2 separate regions of the Homo sapiens genome follow, and region 1 is linked to region 2. A link means that fine-mapping ties the variant in region 2 to the plasma level of a protein whose gene starts in the linked region. Region 2 holds a variant in brackets. A gene starts in the other region. All regions are shown on their reverse strands.

What was found. PIP is the posterior inclusion probability: the model's chance that the variant is causal. The UK Biobank Pharma Proteomics Project read protein levels with antibody pairs (Olink). The fine-mapping took linkage between variants from a reference panel, not from the people measured, so its PIPs are less certain.
Region 1: it holds the start of BPIFA2, and the variant in region 2 is fine-mapped to the plasma level of the BPIFA2 protein (UK Biobank, PIP above 0.99).

What each region holds. Positions count from the first base shown.
Region 1 is chr20:33,164,963-33,170,348 of GRCh38, reverse strand. It overlaps BPIFA2 (BPI fold containing family A member 2), which reads right to left and starts at 2,190. Exons shown (of 9, transcript NM_080574.4): 1 at 2,140-2,190; 2 at 1,047-1,218. The coding sequence starts at 1,203. RefSeq lists enhancers at 3,051-3,550, 3,551-4,052.
Region 2 is chr1:103,908,244-103,913,629 of GRCh38, reverse strand. No RefSeq gene overlaps it. Among named protein-coding and RNA genes, the nearest start is that of AMY1C, 160 kb to the right of the region's middle. The variant C/A (reference allele first, on the strand shown) is at 2,333.

The DNA.
Region 1 (5,386 bases), not on the chromosome of region 2:
TGAGAAACAACAGGGCAATTACTAACTTAAGGAAAAACAAAAGACTATACCGTATAAGAAAAGAGATGTAATCATAATATTGTAACTTGGCTCTGTAATGGACAATATCTACCTAGTTATAATGATTCAGAGAATGACACTTTAAATAAAATTGGTGATATAACTACGTCTAATCGTATAATTCACGAGGTGACTTTGGTTTAGACATTTCTGTCTCTGGGCCTCAGTTTTCTCAGCTGTGAAATTAGAGTGTGAGTCCTTTCTGCATCTTTGAAAGTTACCTAAGCCCTTGACAAGGTTTGAAAGGCAGCCATTTGCAGAAGTTACCTCCTCCTACAAAAACTGTTTTTGATGTGCTGCTAATGTTTCCATAAAACAAAAAGAAAGCCAAGTTATTTTAATAGGTTAGCATAAAAAGGAGGTATAAATAAATATAAAGGTAGGTAGCTTTACAGATACCAAGGCTAGGTAGGGATAATTTCCTTAATTTTCACTGAATTAACACAAGTCCATAAAAGAATATTAAACAACCCAAAAGAAAAATATGCTAAGAATATAGACAAAATCCTCAAGTTAAAATATGTAAGTACATAGTAAATATATGAAAAAAGAAGAGGGCTCCTTCATAATTAGAGGAATGCAAAGTGAAATAAGTTATAGCTTTTCATCTGTGAGACAGGCAGAATATTTAAAGTTGTCCATACCCAGTGCTGGAAAAGGAGTGGGAAAAAAGGCACTTTCGTAGACTGTTGGAGAAAGTGTTAACATAGGAGATTATTTGTCAACAGCATAGTTTTTGAACTTTTGAAATCCCACTTGTAGGAATTTATCTTATGCACGTTTATCAGGATATAATATGTAAAAGGCTATTCATTGTGGCATTGCTTGTTTCTAGAAAGATAAACGAATGAGTCAGGAATTGAATAGCCACTTTTCTCAGTAAACCGCCCATAAAGAGTAGCCCCTGGTGGCAGCCTCTGGTAATGCAGGCATAGTGTTTAGGAGGCTAATTTAGGTGACACTGTTCATCACCCTTGTTGATTTACCTTTAAGAGTATTGTCAACTGTCTCAAGTCCCTCGTGAAGAACAGGTTCCAGCTTATCCACGACATTGCTTAGGTCATTGCCAAGATTGTCAAGAAGAGACTCTGAGGTCCCAGTGAGCACGCCGCACAGGAGAACAAGTTTCCAAAGCTGAAGCATCTTTTGTCTTGACACCTGGACAGTCATGGGAAGAACAGGAGTGAGAATTGCCCAGAGGGAAATGGACTCTTCAGTGAGTTCCCATCACTCTTAACATTTAGCATTCCATTAAGATAGATGTGGTTATTTCCTATTTTACAAATGGGCAGCCAAGGTCAGAAAGCTACAGCAACTTGCCCGGAGACACACAGTCAGTGAGCAGAGGAGCTGGGATTTGAAAAGTCAGACTTGACTCCAAGCCCATACTCTTGACACAAAGTTCCTTTTCATACGCTGTCTTCTCTGCCTAAAATATTTTTCTTCTTCTTTACTTTTCCACTTAGGTCAATTCCTACATCATGCCCTCTGTGAAGCCTACTGTAGGCCCCTTCCCAGATTCTAGGTTGGAGGAGTCCCACCTTGCTGCCTTCATTATCCTGATCAAGGTCTTGGATAACACTTCCCTGATGATTTGACCACCTTTCCTACCAGGCTGTGAACTCCTTAGAGGAAGGACTGTGACTTATTTCACTGTCGAATCCTCAGGCGCCAGTAAAAAGCCTGCACCTAGTACAGTACAGTAAACGAATAAATCTTTGTTGAATATAAGTATGAACAAATCAATGGAGACCACCTCATGACCCTGCATTGTTCATTAGTTTGACACTTATTTTAATATAATCTATAGATCTCTAAATTTACTCTGATTTGCCATTTGTCTTGACACCTGGACAGTCATGGGAAGAACAGGAGTAAGAATTGCCCAGAGGGAAATGGAATCTTTAGTGAGTACTCATCACGAACTTGCCATTTAGAGCACATTTAGAGATATATTGATTATCTCTGCTGTATTCAAAATATTAGCTAACCCAAGCAATCCCACCCCTCTGCCTCTTGCCCCCAAAGCCTTCCAAAGACCACCACGTGTGGTGCCACTGGGGGGAGCACGCCACTCACGCGTTTAGAGGAGGATGCTCATGAAATCCTTGCCCCACTGCACAGTCTGCTGGGATTCTGCTGAATGGTGGCGGCTATTATATGGTGGAGATGGGATGGAAGGCTGCCCACAGAAGCAAGCCTTGGTTCTGGGATCATCCAAGGACACTCCAAGGAAAATAACCCCTCTCCAGGATGAGCAGAGAGAGAGATTTCCAACTCAAAGGTCACCCAGGATGCTTGAATTGAAACGGATGGCTATGGAGAGGGCTTTCCGCCAAGACTAAGACCAGGTCCTCATGGAGCCTGCAGCTACCGAGGGGGTGGTCCTTGGTCCTTGTGGGTGAGGACTGGGAGAAGACTGAGAATGAATGAATTGGAGAATGTCCTGGCAGGAGGACCCATAATGACCATCCGGTCTAACTCCGTCATCATTTGGAAACTGAGGCTCAGAGAGGGGAAGCCACCAGCCTGGGGTCATTCAGCAAGACAGGGACCGAGATGGGTCTAGAATTGTGGCCCACAAGGAGTCAGACAGCCTCCCAGGGGTCCTGCCCCCAGGGGTCTGCACCCGGCAGGTGCAGCAGATGCCTGGCAGCTGCTTGTGCTGACACTGGGCTTGGTGTCCCTAAAGGGCACTTTAGATGCACTTTTCTGTTAGTCTTTATGAAAACTCTGTAAGGCAGGTTTTCAGAGCTCCATTTTCCAGTTGAGAAAGCTGAAGTTCAGAGAGGGAGGTGGCTTGTCCATACTTGCAAGGACAGGAACCAGGCATTTGGGCCACCAGGGAAGACCCTTCCACCCATATCAGGCTGAGGTCAGTTAGCAGAGAGGGAGAGTCCCTGGGCCTGAGTATCCTGTTTTTGCTTCGGCCACTGATGTTTGGGTTGGTTGTAACGCCTGCTGCATTGGGCCTGTGTCAACCCGGAACAGCACAGGAAACTCGGGTGGGTGCCCACTTGGCCTCAGGCTGGGAAGGACTGGCACAGAGCTCAGGGTCACCATAGGTCTCTGCCCTTCTGCTCACCCACCTGCAATTCAGCAAGGACCTGGGGGGCCTGTCCTCAAAATGATGCAACCAAGCAAACGGTGGGACAAGACCAGTGGCTCCAGGAGCTGGCTGTTCCTACACTGACCATGGCTCCACTGTTACAGCACAGAGCTGGGCGGCTGCAGGAAGGTGATGGCCAGGCCCCAAGAGCCCAGACCATTAGACCCCTGCTGCAGTCTTGCCTGTGGTCTTGAATGGTTGTCACACCTCCTTCCCTGGCTGCCTGACACCGGGTTCTCCAAACGTCTGAGCCCCGCTCTTCCCCCAGTTGTGAAGCACAGAGCCAAGGGCTGTGCTGAAATCTTGTGAAGGCAGTTTGTCCCAGCCCAGGAACATAGCCCAGGGTGCTGAGCATGATGCAGTGACCTCGAGACCTGGTGTTGGCCCAGGCCTCAGTTGCCTCATCTGTAAAATGGGTAAACACGCTGTTCCTGGATCTCAGAGGCATGGTGGACAGGCAAGGACCTAGGAAATCAAAACGATGGTGAGGGGCTTTGAGGGCAGTGCTCAGAGCCTGGCACTGGGCTTGGGCTGTCCTGGGCATGAATACTCTCTCTCTGCTGGTTGCTGGCCATGTGACCTGGGCCAGAGACCGCACCTTGCTGAGCCTCAGGCTCTTTATCTGTGAAATGGGACTAAGAACAGTGCTCACCTCAAGGGCATGCTGTGAGGTCAAATTAGTGTAATACCCATGAAGGCTTAGCATAGGGTAGGCCCATGATGCACGGCAACAGCAAAGATGGCGAAGAAGATGCTGATGAATATGTGCGCATATGGTCCCGGCTTACGATGGTTTGACTTCAATATTTCAACTTTACTATGGGTTTACTGGGACACAACCCATTATAAAATGAGGACCATCTGGCCAGGCATGGTGGTTCACACCTGTAATCCCAGCACTTTGGGAGGCCGAGGCGGGCAGATCACCTGAGGTCAGGAGTTCGAGACCAGCCTGGCCAACATGGTGAAACCCTGTCTCTACTAAAAATACAAAATCTAGCCGGGTGTGGGGGCAGGCATCTGTAATCCCAGCTACTCTGGAGGCTGAAGCAGAAGAATTACTTGAACCCAGGGGGTGGATGTTGCAGTGAGCCAAGATTGTGCCACTTCACTATAGCCTGGGCAAAAGAGCGAAACTCCGTCTCAAACAAACAAACAAAAATAAAATAAAATGAGGAGCATCTGTCATAAGATTAATATTATATAATATATAATATAGGGTCCTTGGTGGGTGGGGAGGTTGGGATCCTCAGAGGTCACCCGAGGTTCAGGCTGGCTGGTCTGAGTCATTCCGGAAAAAGAAACAGTGACAACTCCTCCTGTGTGCTCCTCCTCCTCCTCTTCTTCCCTCTCCAGGTTACACAAAGTCTTCTCACATAGAAGATGTTTGCCTCTTAGGGACAAAGGCCCCAGCCATGAGGGTCGCGAGATGAATTTCTTATTGAAAATTCCCAGTGAGGCATTAAAGATTAGCTGTGCCAAGACTAGGACATCCTACCTGCTGCGTGACTGCTAATCCCCAGCTGGGGCAGCTTCCTGATCCCACTGGCCCAGCCTTAACCTCCAAGCTGGTATCTTTTTCCATACCTGGCTCAGTGCCCTGGCTAGAAACAGCCTAAGAGGTCATGCAGCCTACTGAGACCAGAGAAAGCGAGTGACAGGGCTGGGGTTGCATGAGGGGCCAGCCAGGCTGGGGGGTGCTCAGCTGACCAGACTGCCCACTGACCTTCCTTCTCCTGTGGACAGAAGCAGCCCCCACCCCTTCTCCAGATAACAAACACACAGGTGTGCACTCCCATTGCACCCATCAAAGATAATTGCCTTATTTTGCTAGTAAAATTGCTGAAAGGCTTGTCACCATTTTGCCTGTGAAATCAGTCAAGTACGAATCATCCATCCAATTTCTAGTAGGTCCTGGTTTCTCACACTTGAACTGCCTACTCAGGAATTCTGGGCAAATAAGAAAGATCAAAGCAACAAAACCTGTTCACACGTTACTGTCCTTCCTGTGACTGCTAAATAGAGCAATTAATAAAGTTGTCACAATGTTACAGTCTGAAGACCTTTAATTCAACTTTTGGTAATTTTGACTTTGCCGGGTTTTCTTCTGGTGACACAGTTTATTCTTTCAGCGCTCAAGTATTTCCCTAAGTCCCGGATTCCACATCTGGACACTAATAGACCCCTCTCAAGTCCTGCCTTTAGAATATGGAGAGC
Region 2 (5,386 bases):
TGAAATGTTTGGAAAGGAGTTTTGCCCACCCTTGAGTAGATATGTTTGATTATTTTATACATCAGTGTAAAATCAGTATCAATATCAGCCAAATAACTTATCTTACTTGTCCTCTTGATAATTCTCTTCACTCTTAACATTATAGTTCAGAGCATGTACACATGTATGCATGCAAATGCACACACACACACACACACACACACACAAACACAGTGCCTTTCCTGATAAACCAGTGGACTGAAATAATACTCTTTTCCTCTGGAATAACGTGAAAAGACATTGAGGTATTTTTTAGTTTGTTGGTTTTGTTTTTCCCAAGAGTTTTCAGTATATGGGAAAGGAAAAAATGTTACATAAAATAGTATAAGACGGTAGGAAACTCAGTTTCTTTCAATGTCCTTGACCACCAGGCCTAGGCAGCGAGGTTCTATACTTTCACATTACGACAAAGTAGCTGTCTCAGAGACATCATACCCAATGTCCTACCACCCCTCATATCCACTCTGTGTAGTCTTTAAACAACCATCGAAATTTCAAATTCCTTTAATAAATAACAACTTAAATCTTCAAAAGTATCAGGGTCATATTATTTTTAGAAAAAGAGAGTTTAGAACAATATTAGATCAGTAATGTAAAGTATATTCACATTATTGTGCTATAGATATTCAGAACTTTTCATCTTGCAAAATGGAAACTCTATACCTGTTTAACAATTTCATTTCCTCATCCCCCCAGCCCCTTGCAATTACCTGGGCCCACCTGGAAAATCCAGGATAATCTCCCTATTTTAAGATTAAGGTATTAGCAAGCTTAATTCCATCTGTTACCTTATTTCCCCTTTGCCACATTGAACAATATATTAATGGGCTCCAGGAGTTAGAACAGAGGCATGTTTGGCAGGCAAACCATACATAGCCATCTCTTACGGGAAGGAGAGTGAAGTACTATGTTTGGCCAGGTCTGAGTCTGGTGTCTATACTAGACTAGAAGATAATGGAAGGATTAGAGAAATTAGGAAGCAATGATAGGGAAATGGCAACCACCATTTTACTTTATATTTCTATGAGTTTGACTATGTTAGATACTTCTGTTGTGGTTTGAATGTGTCTCCTAAAGTTCCAGTGCAACAGTGATGGGAACTGGGGCCAAATAAGAGGTGATTAGGTCGTCAGGGCTCTGCCTTCATGAATGGATTAATGTCATTATGTTGGGAATGGTTTAGTATCATGACAGTGAGTTTTCTATAAAAGTGAGTTTGGCCCCGTCTTGCCCTTGCTTGAGCTCTCTTGCCCTTCCGCCTTCCACCATGAGATGATGCAACATCTTGCCACATATAGATTCCTCAATCTTGTAATTCCCAGTCTTCAGAACTATAAAAAATAAATATCTTTTATTTATAAATTACTTAGTCTCAGGTATTGTTATAGCAACACAAAACAGACTAAGATGATCATATATTATCATATATATTATATATATAATAAATATATACATATTTAAAAACCAGCAATGTTTGAAAGAGTAAGAGAATCCCTCTACTCCTTGTAAAATCAGATAGTAGCAGTAGCACTACCATCACTGTAAAGTATGGGACGCAGGGAGTATCTATGGGTGGCTGGCAGACATCAAGGGATAGTATGTACCTAACCTACTGGTGAAGGAACAGCTGGAGAGGTACTTGGTTCAATGGGATTTTAAACTCTTCCTCTCTATATCCATAAAGAATATTTGTAGATAAGTCTTAGCAAAGGAAAGAGAATAGTCCTAGCACCCAGAGATATTGGTTTACATCTCTAACTCTCCTAAAGACTACAGGCTCCTTGAGAAAAGAAAAACAAAAAACAAAAAAACTGAGTTTATTTACCTTAGAGATGGAACCAGTTGGTAGAGAACCTTAGATTAAGTGTTACACACACACAGGGAGAGAGAGAGAGAGAGAGACCAAACAGGTTTAGAAAATAACGTTCAATTCCTCAAATTAGTAACAAGCATAGCCAGAACTAAAACTCTCATTTTCAAGTTCCTTGTCATAGTCTGTCATTGTTTACTGTCTCTTTCCAAATTATCACTTGGTGAGTAACAGAAGATATTTTCAAGTCTCTCATAAGATTTGTACTGAGACTTAAGGTTAAGAATATTCTTATTTCTTTTCACTTCCTTGGCAAGTTTATATTTAACGGATATAAGAAGCTTTATTCATAAAAGTAGACTACATTTCATGTGTTCTTCCTGTAAAATATGCATGTAACCTGTTCCATTCTTGCAGTTTCTACTGTATATTCTGTAAAATTAATAAAATTACTGAATCTATATTTTACAAATATCATTGCCA[C/A]ACTTATTGTCTAATAGTATTTAATATTATATTGCTTGTTAATCAGTATTAAAAATGATTAAAATAAATTTATTCTTGTTTTAACAGTATTAGTTTACATTTTGCCTGGCATACCCCAAAGCTCCTATTGTACTTTTCTAGGAAGATATTACCTTCAGTATGGAAGGGGGTAGTGAATGTATTACTAAATAATGCCAAAACATTTGTGGATAGAAAATTCCCATTGATAGAACAAAACCTTGATATTATCTCTAAAAGTAAGTACTGAAAATAAAGTTAAAAAAACAAATACAAATAGTATTCAAATAAAAATTGGCAGGGTTTAATAAGAAAAGTAGTGAGGTAGTTTCTATAAATAAAGAGCTCATTATGGAACAAACATAAATTAACAATAAGTACAAAATATTAAATAAATATTCTGAGAACAGAAGATTAGGATGCAAAGATTTTCCAAAATAATAGATTGACTCAAGATGACAAAGTGTACAAATGCTGCAAAATGCCTATGCATCCAAGATTACATGAAAGAAGAAAAAAGATTTCATATATTTTATAAAATATATAAATAAGAGAGGATATATATATATATTTCATATATATTCATGCATGTATTTTCTATACCAAACATATACACACACAATGGAGAATAAATCCATAATAGACAAGAAAAAAATTTAAAGTGCCATTATAGCCCAAATGTTATGAGCAATACCTGAAAGATATAAAGTAAGTAGGATCAGATCCAAAGAAAAGCAAGAGAAAAAAAAGCATTGCAAAACAGATTCTGAAGCAGACTGTTGCAAAGGTAAAGGCATTTTAGGTTCTGAAGAATGAAGCAAAGTTAATGAAGCAAGCAGAAGAGTTTAGATAAAGCATTACTGATACATTCAGAAACAGCTAAGGGGATATTGCAGCTATGAAAAATTTATTAGAAGTCTTGGCATTTAAAAGTTGATCACCTATGCTGGAAACAATAGTCTAAATAGCCTAATGGGCATGGTTGAAGTGTAAATTACTGGGCTAGAAATCTACCAAGGGATTATCTCAGACTACAGAGATAAATGCAAATGAGAGGGAAAGTATAAGTGATGAGAAATGAAGTACAGATCCATAGGTTCCAATATCTCTCTAAAATGAGTTCCAGAAGGAGAAGAGGAATACATGGAATAGAGTAAAAAATAATAATAATATAGTAAAAAATAACACTTCCATTAACAAAATGGAATGAGTTTATAGTTTAGAAAACATGTGAAGCAATGGTGAAATCTCAGAACATCAAATGTTAATGTTAATTGTGTTTTCCCAAAAATTCATGTGTTGAAGTCCTAATGCCCAGTACTCTAGAATGTGACTGTATTTGAAAATGTGGTTTTGAATAAGTTATTAAATTAAAATGAAGCCATAACAGTAGACCCTAATTGAATCCGACTGGTGTTCTTCTAAAAACAGAAGATTAGGATGCAAAAAAAGACGTCAGGGATGGTCCCTCACAAAATAAAGGCAATGTGAGGACACAGTGAGAAGGCAGCCATCTGTGAGACAAGGAGAGAGGGTTCAGAAAAATCAAACCCGCCCACAACTGGATCTTGGACTTCTGGCCTCTAGAACTGTGAGAAAATAAATTTCTGTTATTTTAGCCACCAACTCTGTGGTATTTTATTATGGTAGCCCTGGCAAACGAATACACCAACAACTAAAATATTATTCTAAAAACATCTTGTAAGAAAACACAAGCAATCTAACAAAAAAATCAGCTTAATATTATATTTCATTTAAACATGACTTCTACCTTTATTGTTATCAATTAAGGATTTTTTTTTTCCTAATAGCATCCATATGTGTTTACTGGTGTCTATTCTCCTCATCCACCTGTAGTCAATTCCTTACTATGCAGGCAAAATTATCTTGTGCAAATAAGATCACATAATGCCTTCTGCTCAAAACCCCTGATGGCTTTACATCCAAAATAAAATCCCAAGGAATCAAAGAACTTATTTTGACCTATAATATCTCTTTTATTGGTCCTTCTTTCCCTTTCACTCTTTATCCACATTGAACATCTTTTAATTTCTGGAACAAACCAAGTAATTAATATCTAACACAGCCAAGGTGATTCTCAACCTTGGCTGAGTATTGGAAACACCTGCAGAGACATTAAAATATTGATGCTTGATTTCTACTCCCTAGAGTTTTAGATGCATTTGGTCGGGCATTCAACCGTGGTATCAGAATTTTTTTAAGCTCCCAGGGGATTGTTAGGGTCAGAGAAGTTTGGAAACCACTTGTCTAAGGAAGTCCCTGTTGCTTGAGTTTAGAATCCATTTGTCCACACCTTCACCTGGCTCCCTTCTTTATTTCTTTCAAAAGAAGGCCAAATGTCTGATCAAATGCTCTCTGATCTAAGAAAGTGGAACTTCAGAGTTCTAGGACAAAACTACTTTGAGTGTAAAATCCTAACCCAGCAAGTTAATATTAACCTAGGAGGGAGATAGTTATACAGAGACACCCAAAAGTACAAAACAAGATAGGTAAATTATGAGGAGACATTTATATAGGACAGAAAGAGGATGAGAAAGCCACATGTCTACAGTAATAAAAGACCTTGAGATTGCTACATAAGACCTGGGTTCGTATAAATTCTCTGAGTCTTGGTTTTCACAATGTTGAACTGCAGATATTATCTTCTGTAAGTTTTTTCAGGCGCCTTCTCCCAGGACCAAAGTAGACTAATGTAGTAAAACGTTTTGGCACTTCAAGAACCGCGTAAATGGATTTTTCAAGTAAATTTAAAATAAAAGCCTTATATTAGTCTCCTCAGGCTGCCATTACAGAATACCACAGACTAGGTGGTAAACAACAGAAATTTATTTTCTCAAGGTTCTGGAGGCCAGAAGTCCCAAGTCACGGGTTCAGCAGGGTTGGTTTATGAGAGGCTTCTCCTCCTGGCTTGCAGATGGCTGCCTTCTCGCAGCTGCCTTTCATGGCTTTTCCTCCCTGCATAGACACTGCTGGTGTCCCTTCCTCTTCTTAAAAGGACACCAGTCCTATTGAATT